2 linked regions of the Homo sapiens genome follow. The protein of the gene in region 2 interacts with the protein of the main gene of each other region in a biochemical or structural test. Each region holds a gene or a part of one and is shown on either strand. Other genes may lie near its edges.

Region 1 (7,038 bases), on a different chromosome or scaffold from region 2:
ACAGGAAGACTGGACAAACTACAACAAGTGACCCAGGATTCAGGTAGTGTGGTTCTTGCATCCCACTGGAACCCTATCTTGAGTGTCTTAGCATGTCCATCTTATACCTTTGCCTCTCACTGTATGCTTGTAATTAGCTCAGGAAACTGTGTGATTCAAGCATCTAAATGCAGTCACTAAACCTATTCATTCTGTCATTGCTGGGATAATCATCCTAGCAGTGTACTTGGAGGCCATCAAGTATATGTGGTAATTGCTTCAGCGTGATTTCCCATTGCAACAATAATTCATATTTGCAGAGTACTCCATAGTTTACAAAGTACTTCAGAGTTACAAAATGCTTTTAAACCCATTATCACAATCTATCGTTTAATCTCTTAATTAAAACACATTTAATTGATTTAATTCACCTATGATCAGGTTAATGTTGAACTTGAGAAAAACATTTAATTCATCCCAGCCAAAGATGTCACTGTAAAATAAAGTAACTTATCTAGATCAATGGAAATAGAATGAGGACAAAATACAAATGTGTGTAAGCAGTATTTTTTAATGTACTTTTGAAATTAGGAAATGGGGAATCTACAAACTATACTAAAGTATTCTTTTATCTCTTCCTATTACTTAAGAGTTTCACTATTATAGCTAAAATTATAGAAATAAAATGTCTAGCTTGAACTACAGTACTTGTAACACTGAGATGTGGAATAAGTTTTGTTACTGAATGAAACCCTTTTTGAAACTGCTTTGTCTTTCCTTAACAGCAAAATAAGGATTGTTTCATATTGTCTCTTAAAATCATATTGTTTAAAACAAAAAATGTTCCTACAGTGAACAAGACTAACAAAGGTACTTTACGTTTTTGGTATAAGGAGGGAGGGGAGCGATGCTCATAAAATTAAAGCATGTTCACTGTTTAAAAATCTGAAGTAGTAGGCCGGATGTGGTGGCTCACACCTGTAATCCTAGCACTTTGGGAGGCCGAGGTGGGCAGATCACCTGAGGTCAGGAGTTCAAGACCAGCCAGGCCAACATGTTGAAACCCCATCTCTACTAAAAATACAAAAATTAGCCAGGCCTGATGTCAAATGCCTGTAATCCCAGCTACTTGCAAGGCTGAGGCAGGAGAGTCGCTTGAATCCAGGAGACAGATGTTGCAGGGAGCCAAGATTGCGCCACTGCACAACAGCTTGGGCAACACAGCAAGACTCCATCTCAAAAAAAAAAAAAAATCTGAAGTAGAAAATAGTTACTCCTCACTAGAATCCCATTCTTAGTGATTACCACATAAGTTTGACTCCACTTATTTTGAAAAGGTCTTTTCCTTAACCAATTATTTTTCTTGACAGCTTCCTTAACAAAAGGTTTAATTGAATTTAGAAAGTAATAAATATCTAACAATTACTGAGCACTCATTATGTACAGACATCATGCTAAGCACTTTACAGGTAATAATTTATTTAATCCTAACAACAACTCTACAAAGTAGGCCACTATTACTATCATCCTCATTTTACAGATTGACAACAGAATGTTGAAAATAACAAGCTCTGGTAAATTAGAAGAACCAGGATTCTAACCGAGGCAGTCTGGCCACAGAGCTCCAGCCCTTAACCCACTACCCTGCACTGTCCTTCACAAACTCTCACTTTTACAAAGTTAACTGCGACTTAAGAAATGTTAAGTAATCTGCCCAAGGTCATGCAAATAGAGTGGTAGAGCTGGATTTCAACTCTGATTATAAATCCATTTCTGGAGCCTGGACTACCCATGCTATATAATCCAATCCATTCACACCACCACCCATTGGGTGTTTCTTTGCTACACAGCACACTGGCCCTCAATAATCACTACCCAGCAACCAATTCTCTCTGACAAATCCAGACAAAAGAATCAAAAGGCAGACTGGGCATCAAGCTACATGGGTTGTTTGACTCTCATATAAGATGGATGTTACTTCTCAGTAAAATCATGGGCACTACTCAAAACTAACATGTCACTTGTGGACTCTGAGTCTCAGAATATACAGCACTGATGTAGTTCTCTCTTAAGTGCAATTCTAAAATTCCATGTTTCTAGTATAAACCTACATAATTAATAGTATTACGTTTCTTTTTGGGTAAAAGAAAAATGATAAGAGATAAAAACAGTAATCTAAAAGTACTAAGGAACAGATGCTATTAAAAGAAAATGTGATGGTACAAAATCTCTAAGAGAAGGCTTTTAATTACTTCAAACGTTTATTGAATTCCTGTGTAACTGACACCAGGCACCAGGAATAAAGTTTAGTAAGACACAGTCCTGCCTTCCAAGTACTCATGGCCTAGAGGTCTGTCTGACTAGTCAGCTAGTCTAGTCAGCTATAGACTAGATGCTACAGTAGCATCTCCATAGCCTCTTAGAACTCAACAACTACTTGGACAAACACTGTTGTCTGTGAATTGAATTCAACTGCCAAAAACAAAAAACAAAAAACAAAAAAAACACAAAACAAAACAACCAACCAACCAACCAAAAAATCAAAGGCATCTGGCATTACAAATAGCATAACTAAAACTTAATTTTTCAAAAGCAGCACCCCAAGCCCTGTGCAAATGGAACTAGAATCAACCTAGTTGACTGGAACTAGATGTCTAATTTATTTATATCTGTATTACTGCAAACTCAGATTTCAGGGATGCTCTTATTGCATTAAAAGGAGGTGCTCTTATTTTCTACCTCTTAACTCACTTCCTTTGAATGATTGTCACACATCCAGTTCCTCTGTCTCAATTTTTAGTTCCCTGTTTTACCAGTTATATGCTTTCACAAGCCACTCCCCTCCAGCCATCTTTGCATTCGTGTCAGCCTTCTATCCTTATGGACAGCATAGAGACCAGATTTAAGCAGCTCCCATCTTACAGTTCCTTCACTACAGGACATCAACATACATTCCACAAGTACCTGTGTAAAGCACAAGGAACACTGCTGGCAAAAAGGATTGACCATTCTTCCATACCTAACATTTTTTTTTTGTCTCTAAATTAAAAAATACAGCTCAGGTAGTTTTGTATCTTCTCAAGGGGCTGAATGAAGTATAATCAGAATGATAATTATAATGAAGATTAAAACCATATATAAAATATTTACTATGTGTCAGATACTATTCTAAGCAGTTTATCTTATTTAATCACCACCACAACACTCCAGTTTACATGAAGAAATAAAGAAACTGTGGCACTTATAGCAGCTGAGTAATTTGATCAAGGTTATATATCTGCTTAAGTTCCCAGAGCACAACACTGAAAATCATTTAACCCATCAGGGAGCTCCACCACAGAATAGCAATCCACCTTGGGTATAAATGAAAGAAAGAAGGCAAAAAGTATTAAAAACAACAGAGAGGGAAAAAGAGAGACACAAAATGGAAGAAATCAAAGGAGAGAAAGGAGACAAGGAGAAGTTTATTCCCTGATCAGTCCATAAATCCTCTAACTCATTTCAAAAGTCATGCCAAGAATATTCTAAGGATTTTAGGGACCAATTTAGAAGGGAGATTTGGATAGCAATGGACTCAGTCTTTAAAGGCTCTATTTCCATTCCACCTCAAAAAGACCAAGACTATTCCCCAAAACAAACCTAATCAACCAGTTCCCTACTACAGAGGACAACAGGGGGTTAGAAATCTCGTATGGATTACTAGCATCCTCTGCCTTCAAAAGCTGTGGTATGGAAACCAGCCTGGCTCTCTCAAGTGCTACAATGATCTCAGAATCTTCCAGAATTACTGCAATGTGCAGAAGCACAGCTGGGGACCACATCAAGCTTTGGTCAGCAACAATTCTTGCCCTTTTATTTCTCACCTGATATCATTAAGCAAATCAGTTGCACCCAGAAAGTAAAACCAAATCCTTAGCACAGACCTAGAGTATAGGCATGTATGTTCTTTTTCTACCTTCACAGAAAAAGAGAAATAGAAAATATATATCCTCAACTTACAATGGGGCTACATCTGGATAAATTCATCATAAACTGAAAATATCTAAGTCAAAAATGTTTCATAAGTCAAATTCTACTTATGATATTTTCAACTTATGATGGGGTTGTTGGAACATAATCTCATCATAAGTTGAGGTGCGTACTGAATGCATATCACTTTCATACCATCATAAAGTCGAAAGCTCACTAGTCAAGCCTTATCTTAAGCTGGAGACCATCTGTATACTCCCCAGTGTGGAGGAAAGTAAGACAGTAGCTAAGAGAGGCTATGCTAAGGTTTTGAGCAGCACTCTTCTTCTCTAAAAACTTTTCTATCCACCATCAAAGATAGGACCACTGTGCTTCTCTTCTGATTCATTAATGCTAATCTTGGGTTGAAATTTTCTATGAACATCTTATAGAATTTCTTAAATATTATTATCAATAGAGATACTACTGAGATCTTACAGTCATTAAGAGATGTACTAGGTACCAAGAAAAACAGTAAAATTCTATGTAAGCACACAGCAGGTAGGTATGTGTGCAAAGCACCCACATGTGCACACATACCCTCATGAGCAACATTATTTATCAGGTACTGATTGTTCATGAGATCTTACATTAGATATGAAGCAATAGAAAATGAATAAGGGGCTGGGCGTGGTGGCTCACACCTGTAATCCCAACACTTTGGGAGGCCAAGGCGGGAAGATCACCTTAGGTTCAGGAGTTCAAGACCAGCCTGGCCAACATGGTGAAACCCTGTCTCTATTAAAAATACAAAAAAATTAGTCGGGCATGGTGGCACACGCCTGTAATTCCAGCTACTCAGGAGGGTGAGTCAGGAGAACTGCTTGAACCCGGGAGGTGGAGGTTTCAGTGAGCCAGGACCGCAACAATGTACTCCAGCCTGGGCAACGAGAATGAAATTCCGTCTCAAAAAATAAATAAACAAATGAATAAGGTACCTCAATGTCAAGTAACTGTGTATATGTGTTGGGGTATGTTTTTAGATAAAAATGTCTTATAACAATGTCTTATAAATATCATTCCAGGCTTTTTTTAAGCTTTTCTTTAAGGGATGTTTCTAGACATGAATAAATTTTACTGTACTTACTGCTAAAATGTCTGCTTCTACAGGCAGTAGGTTTAAGAATGCAAAGAGCTGGACAGTCAAGATGGTGTAGACTTGTGTGGCTGACAGCATGAGCATCCCTATGGAGAGCAGCATCTCGTTGTAAAATCACCTGGAAGACAAGGATGTGAGTAACTGAGAGCTGGTGCTTTGTCCCAGGGAATAGATCATTTGATATATTAATTCCCAATGTCCAAAAATATCCCTTTTAATTATAAACATGTATTAACATTAAAAGTAAAGCTTTTATTTCAAAAGCATAAGAACTTACACAGATTTGGACATTTAGGTAAACACCCATGTTTAGTCAATACCTATGTAACTCATGATGACAAAGTTCTGTTTTAATCACAAAACAAACATCCTCCCACAGTGCTCAGTTTATAGTACAGCTTGTCTTACTAACCCAAATTTCAGAGAAACTAGATTTCAACCAAAATAATGGTTAAAAACATACACACAAGCATCTTTGCTTTAAAATTGAAAATTTTCTACAACTTAAAAAATTTTTACTTCTGGTTCAATATAAATTCACATGTAAATTTACTTTTCATTTGCTATTGTATATTGTACCAACATCAGAGAATGCCAAAAAATTAACAGCCACTTATAATAAAGGAATACTTTTTGTCCATTACCTCCTAACAATCTATGCTTTTTTCCCCTCTCTACGTCTGAATGGCAACAGCATAACTACCTCTCCCAACTTCATCCTGTTCACTATGAGTCCCTTTCTCTCTTTTAGCAAAAAGATACCGTGAAAAGACTAAATGTCAACCCATAAATATAAAAATTATCATTGGTAAGCCTCAATCAATTGTATTATATACTCTTAAACAAGTGAGAACGAACATTACAAAAACAAGGGCTTTTATAATGAATTATTTCATTAAATATCCCAAACTCATGTAATATCCGTTTTGATGATGATTAGTGTGGATAAGTGCTCTAGATATAGAAGCTGCCATATAGACTCAAACTCTGAATCTCTGACTCACACACTGGAAGTAAAATACCTGTGAATAATTTTTAAGGTACCATTTACAAAGCCACTAATATCAGAGATGAAATAAAAATGAAAACATGCTAAAGTATAGATTTGTTCCTTAACGACAAAAAGTAAATTAGTGGTTGCCTAGGGATTGGCAGGGCGTGGGGGGAAAGCTTGAGGGAGGGGAAAGGTGGGAATGAGAAATGACTGCTAATGAGTAAGGGTTTTGGAGGGGAGATGGTGAAAATGTTCTAAAATTAGACTCTGGTGATGGTTGCACAACTCTATAAATATACTAAAAATCACTGCATTGTACACTTTAATTGGTTGAATTTTATAATGTGAGAATTGTATCTCAATAAAGCTTTTTTTAAATGTCTAGATTTGTTGACATTCGTTTCTTAAGTAAAATACATTTCATAACATACCATGGTACAGAAAAGAGTTAACACAGCAGGCCTGAGATTGCTATCCCTAGAAAGGTCTGCTTGCAAGGTTGGCCCCTCGCTGGCATCTGGAAATTTAGATTTCAGGACAGTTCCCACTATTTCCTAGTAAGAACAGCTCAGTGTGCCTACACTTTACAAAAAATGTGGTTTGTGCTGAATACCTGTTTTCCTTCTAGGATCTAGAATTTTGGTGCATGCTAGACAGAGAGTGTCTATATTAACAACCCCTAATATAAACCCTGGGCACTGAGTCTCTAATGAGCTTCCCTGGTAAACATTTTACATGTGTTGTCACAACTTGCTTGAGGAATTAGACGCATCCCATGTAACTCCACTGGGAAAGGACCCTTAGACGCTTACACTGATTTACTCTGGACTTTACCCCATGTGCCTTTTCTTCTCACTGATTTTGTTTTGTATCCTTTTGCTGTAATAAATCACAGCCATAAGTACAACCATGTGCTGAGTCTTGTAAATGCTCCTAGTGAATCACTGAATGTGGACAA
Region 2 (6,685 bases):
CATGCTGCAAGTCTATGGAAGTATTTCAAAGAGAATATTTGAGGAAGGAGAACTAGAACTGTAAGGAAAACCTTAGTCTAACTGGAAAAGTAACCTCACTCACAGTTCATGGAAGACCAAATAAAATGTGGGCCAATTATAAGAAACTAGAATATGTGAGTGTTAGGACTTAAGAAAACATTAGTTTAACTTTGTTTTAGGATGAAACAGACAAGTAGAGTCCCAAGGGTTTTTGTATTCAAAATCAATTAGGTATTGGCTGAAATTATTTTTTACCATCTGGGCAAGAAGGAACAAGAGGCAAGGCTTAAAGCTATTTGTATAAAAAAGATTTTACATTTTCTCAATATACATTTTAGAAAGACTGTCGCCCCCCCACTCCAGATCTCATCTTGCGCAATATGCCTAAGATACACTGCTCTTGATTTGTGAAATAATTGAGTTTCCGAATAATTTACTGAGTTTCTGAATATTAAAAATATGAGTAAAAAATAAATCGACATTAACATCTGCTTAATAGTGATAAAATATACTTTTATTTACTTTGTTGAGTCAGAGGGTTGTAAAAAAAATTATTGCTAAAGTAGATATCAGGCAAACAGAAAGGTGCTTTAGAAGTCCAGTTACCTTGGAGTTTATTTAAACTAAGAGAAAAAAGTCATAATGTTTTCATGCAATACATACTTGGTTCTCCAAATAACAACTGTGTGACATATAGCAGAAGGAATTAAGGAATGCTGCACTTGTGATCCATACAAAACACCAACATTTTAGGTTGTACATAATTAGAGAAATATCTGAAACACTTTTTAAAACACTGTAGTAGCCAATACATAGAGGCATGCCGTAGGTGGGCACAGGAATGCAGTTTAGAAAAGAAAAAAAAAAATCACATAGGAACTACTCAATTTCTTTAAAATCACTGAGCAAGAACAGCAACATTGAACTTTCATACTGATTTTACACAACTTCTATACAGTACCTTGACTTAAATCCAAGAGCAAAAGTTAAGACTCTCCTCCTCTATTTTTGGTAAACAACTGCATGGTAAACTTAGATGACTCTTCCCCCTGGATTTTACCTGGGAGTGGCCTTTTTACATTTTTATTTAAAAGAGGGCAGGTTTGGCACTTTTATACTGATGTCACCAATGTTAATATTTCTTGGGATCTCAGGAAGATTCATATTCTTTACAGCTGATACAGCACGGGCTGGAGCTCCTGCTAAGCCAGCCTGTATACAGAAGCAAATAAAAGAAAAAGAAAATGTACAACTCAGGTGTAGCTCATCATAAAACACTTACAATGGAAGACAATGATAAAAGATTTTCATATAACAAGCTTAGGGACCAGATGGTAGTTTGAATTGGTATGGAATGGTTACTTTGAAATACTAATCTATAAAGAGAAAACAGTGACACATTAAAAAATACAGTGAACACATGCAATGATAACAATGTAAAGATTTAAATACAAATTAATGTGCACTACCACACAATATTCACATGATAAAACCTAAATCTTCACCTATATCTTGATTTAACTGACAGATAGCATGAAGCATGATTTACATTAGTTTCCTTATTAAATATCTCTTGCAACGATTGTGATAGATTTTCTTTTGCTTTTAAAATGGCATTTATTAGCAATATGTGCTGTGAAATAAAAATTGCAAGTAATAGATTGTGCTTGTTTAATTTCTTAGGGATAAACCCTTAAAACATTTTAAAACAATAAAATTAGTTTTTTAAATTGTGAGGGCTCTTTTAAACTTTTCTAATAAAGTTCTAGAACATTAAAAAAATAGGCTTTCAAGTAAAGCCTCAATCCAAAGAATATAGTTCTGCCTAAAGATGAAACTACACGAAGAGGATCATTCCAACCCTTTGATGCATTAGTAAAAATATAACGATTAAAAATGTTTTGTCATATAGCATAGATTCAGCAACATATATTCAGCTTACAGTTTACAAATTTAGAGAAAGAAAAGCATAAATGCAAGAGGTAGTAAATATAAATAAATGAATTCTAAAATTTCCAGTAAGTACCACTAGTGCATAATATTTGGCTTTCCTATTAGTAGGAACATTTGTAATTTGTGAAATAATTTTAAAAGAAAATATGCTTACAAATAAAAGAAAATGCATACATATCATTTTTCTCACCTACGTTAACAGCCTTCATATTTGAGGTTTAATTTATATACCAATTACATTTCATTACTTTTTATTCAGGCTATATAATAAAGCAAAGTCAACAAAGACATCTGAGTTCAGTGGCATCATTTTGTACAAAAATAGACAACAAAAACGAATCTTCCACTTTGATTAGATTATATATGGCAATGTCCATAAAATTAGAAACACTAGCTTTAAGGTCCCTTTTCATAATTTTAGTTTTCTTTTCTTATGTAATCCTACCTTTGTTAATTAAAATAAAAATAATAATAAAGCTGTTACCTGAGAAAAATCTTGACTGATACAAAATAGGCCAGTGTAAACTATTTGCTAAATAAAGGATACAAACATTGTTAAGCAATGAAATAAAAGCCATGGATTATCAATTCAGAATTGGAAATAATAGAAAAATTAGTAGAATAGTATTAATAATAAGTATATTCTACACAGGCAATGATAAGAGTGATACAAATGAATAACTCCATACCCAATTAAATAGTGAATAGGGCTGGAGAAGTTTTATAATTTAATGGATGTTAGTTATTTTTGATGTACAACTAAAAATGTGATTGACCTCTATACTTATACCTACCTGAAGCAATGAAGTTTTTGTTACCCCCCCTTCCTTCCTGCTCCCCCAAAGATGTTGGAGATACAACTAAATAATAATTAAGGCAGCATGTATAATATTTGAAAGGGTCTTTAATTTGATCGTTTCAAGTTAAAGGTCTAGCTACCAAAATTTAGAGTGGGTTGGGATCAAAGAAGAATCCAATTCAAAGAGGTTTACCATCTTTTGGCTTTCTTTTACCAGGAAGTATGTTGTCTACTAAGGAAGAAAAATTTACAAAATTGCAGACGTCCTGGAGGTAGTATCATTTTTTAGATAGGAGGATTTTGTAATTTTTCTAGTTAAAAGACCAATTTGCCACTATTTTTACTTAGGAATTTCCATAAAGAAGACAAATAATGAACTGACTATAGAAAAGTATTGACAAAATATTTGAGTATAAATATTTTAAAGGTGTGAATTATTAAGGGATTTTATTATTGTGAGAGAAATTGTGCGTGTGTGTGTGTGTGTTTATCTGTGTATTTTATTGGACACTATGGTTTACACTTATAAATAGTAAACATAATGTTTTCAGTATTAAATGTACATGAAGCTCTCTTTTCCATAATATCCTGTACCATGAAGAGCTAAACTAAAGCAAAAAATAAATTAAAAAAATTTAAAAATGCATCCTGTTAAATTTCATTAGATTGAGTTGTATCATTGTGACCAAAGATGGTGTCGACTGTTGGCTGCTAACAAGAATACATAAAGTCAATATAGCAATTGATTTAAATAGCATATTTGTGCTTAATATGTAAAACCAAAAGAAGTTTCTAAGTACAACAAACTACAATTCTTCTAAACATAAGCAGCAAGCCATAGACATGCAAAAGATAGGAACTATTCAGAACACGCAAATGAATTAGGAGGATCAAATTATTTCTCAAGCATGTTCAATACTTTTGTGTAGTATGCCATGAATTTAAATGGTAGGAAAATTTAAAGTTGTAATAGGTGCTTTAAGTTTTAATTAAACTAACGTTTTAAAAAGAAATCATATTATGCAAAATATAAAATGTTGAGAAAATATGATAAGGACAATTGATCAACAGATGTTTAAACCAGCTAGCAATGTTTATATATAAAAATTTAGGGCTAAAAAAAAAGACTTTATGTCACTCAGTCAACACCAGAATGGCTATAAAACAAATTTCATTTTCAGACATTCATGAAAGTGATGCCTGAAACATTTTTATTAAAACATAAAATGTAAAGTAACTTTCCATTAGGCAATCAGTTTGCTGACACAGAGGTATGAAGTAATTTTCATCTTGGTTAAGATTTTTTTTTTTTCCAGTAAGATACATTCAAAGCAACAAAATAACTTTTACTAACACTTAACTTTTCAACGCTAAAACTTACAGAAATTGTTTACCTGACTTGTTAGCAGTACAGTAGTCCCCCCTTACCCGCAATTTCACTTTCCATGGTTTCATTTACCCGTGGTTAACTGTGGTCTGAAAATAAGTGTGTGCAGTACAATATTGTGATAGAGAAAGGCCTCAATCACATAACTTTTTTTTTTTTTTTTTTTTTTAAGAGACAGGGTCTCACTCTGTCACCCACAGTGGAGTGAGTGATGCAATCATGGCTCACTGCAGCCTTGAACTCCTGGGCTCAAGTGATCTTCCCATCTGTCTCCTGAATAGTTAGAACTACAGGTGTGTCCCACCACGCCTAGCTAATGTAAAAAATATACATTTGTAGAGATGGGGTCTCACTGTGTTGCCCAGACTGGCTCAAACTCCTGGCCTCAAGTGAGTCTTCTGCCTTGGCCCCTCAAAGTGTTGGTATTATAGGCGTGAGCCAGTGCACCTGGCCTCACATGACTTTTATTGCATTATACTGTTATAACTGTTCTCTTTTATTATTAGTTGTTAATCTCTTACCGTGCCTATTTTATAAATTAAATTTTATCATATGTATATATGCATAGGAAAAAACATAGCATATATAAGGTTCAGTAGTATACACAGTTTCAGGCATCCACTGGGGGTTTTGGAATGTACCCAACACAGGTAAGGGGGGATTACTGTAAATACATTTTTAAACGTAAAAGTAAGATATTTCTGACAGTACAACATAGTTCTTAAAGATTTAAGATTATATAGTTGACACACAGCAGAAATAAAAAGAATGAAATTCTACTGGAGAAATAACTTGTTTCCATCTATGTTATACCTGAGCACCACCATGGCAGGTAAAACTGCAGCGACTACACCAATAAAAACAAATATATGAATCCAAAGCAGTTAAGAATATGAACTGGATGAAAGAATGAAGTACAGTATATAAAAGAATGATCATGTTTTCTCTCCCATGAGATTAAATAAATTAACAGAATTAAGAGAAAGAAAACAAAATGAAGTCTGCAAGTATACCAAAATGAGGCCAAACAGATAAAGACTTATACAGACATACTCTTGGAAATTTCAAGCACTTGAATCACAAAGATAGTAATGGATGGATATGATTTGTTTTTGATTTTGTTTTTAAATTGCCAGACCCAAAAATAAACAAAATATGTGCAAGCAAAACTGAAAAAGCAGCATTACTAAAATGTATTTCGAAGACCCTGAAAGCTCCCTTTTCCTCATGCAATAAACAATCAACTTTCTTGAAGGGAAAAGGAAAGTAATAGAGTAATCTTGTTATTTATTTCATCTAAGACATAAAATACCATCCTACCATCTTAAAATATCTTTTTTTTTTTCAAGTTTGAATACAGCATAATAAGATGGTAGTTGGAACAAACTGTACGTATTAAAACCTTTACCCACCCTTCCTGCTGGAAGTTGCTATATGCACATTCATAATTTTGACCTAACAGCAAAGTGAAAGAACACCAACATTAATAAACACAATATTAAATGGTTTCAGACTCAAAATCATTAACAAAATAATGGCAGATTTTGAAAGCATGTTTTTGAGCAAAAAAGAAAATGTCAATAGTTTAAAAAATCCCTCAACACGAGGTAGAATAACTTTTAATCTGGGGATATATAATAGGCTTTGTTTTAATGGCAGTGCTTTAATACTGCAATTATAAACATTTAGATAAGCTCATGACAATTCTCTAGACAGCAATAACTATGGTGTTTCACAGTTTTAACAAAATTAGAGTGCTCAAAAATTTAAAAAACCTTCCAAATTATTAGTCATTTTGTACGGATTATCTTCAATTATAGCTTTAATTTCAAACATAGGATTTGCCTGCATGAAAAAAAGAGAGCAGACTAATGACTTTCATGGATTTATCATTACTAGTTTTGACCATTACAAGTGACCTCAAGGGTTCTCACCATAATTTTGTAGAAGTACAAGACAAATGTGTATGTCAAGGTAGAGAGGCAGAACCAGCTCATGAGCTGACCTTCCACCATCAGTACCTTAGAGCCACTTTTCTTATTCTCTCCTCTTTGAAAACAGAAACTTGATTTTTTTTAAAAAAGGCCAATTAACAGTTCTAGCAATAAAGTTAACAGACCCAAGTGATTAATGGTTCTTTGCTGGAAAATAGCAGTAATAAATTACATACTGTAACACAGAAACTGGCAATAATTCTGACCAATGGTGAGAATGAGACTACTATGTATTCTCTATATGAGGGACAAAATAACATGGATAGAGGGACCAAAAACGGTACCCCAGTTTTGTGACATAGCCCACAATCTCAAAATAAGATACTATAAAGCCACCTGTATGTTGCTACTTCTTCTCAAACACATCGAGAGAGTAAGTAAAAATTTAGTGGCTAAAAGGCAATGCTTTGTGATATCACCACAATCATCAATTCTCAGTGATGTTTTTCTAATTAGTAAGTGCATAATCTAACTTCGTAAGTTTATACATTTTTTCCTCCATAGGACTCAATAAATTACTTTTATTTTGAA

What was found. The genes of interacting proteins can lie anywhere in the genome.
Region 1: the proteins of AP3S1 (region 2) and RNF13 form a complex in vitro, tested with the Homo sapiens proteins (one study listed by BioGRID).

The regions. Positions count from the first base shown.
Region 1 is NC_000003.12:149,844,177-149,851,214, reverse strand, and holds part of RNF13 (E3 ubiquitin-protein ligase RNF13 isoform 1 precursor), read right to left. Parts: intron 5,205-7,038; 5' UTR 5,189-5,204; coding exon 5,075-5,188; intron 1-5,074. UniProt on the Homo sapiens protein: E3 ubiquitin-protein ligase that regulates cell proliferation. Involved in apoptosis regulation. Mediates ER stress-induced activation of JNK signaling pathway and apoptosis by promoting ERN1 activation and splicing of XBP1 mRNA.
Region 2 is NC_000005.10:115,907,910-115,914,594, reverse strand, and holds the end of AP3S1 (AP-3 complex subunit sigma-1), read right to left. Parts: intron 2,507-6,685; coding exon of another isoform or gene 2,459-2,506; exon of another isoform or gene 1,240-2,458; intron 1,234-1,239; coding exon 1,105-1,233; 3' UTR 514-1,104; downstream 1-513. UniProt on the Homo sapiens protein: Part of the AP-3 complex, an adaptor-related complex which is not clathrin-associated. The complex is associated with the Golgi region as well as more peripheral structures.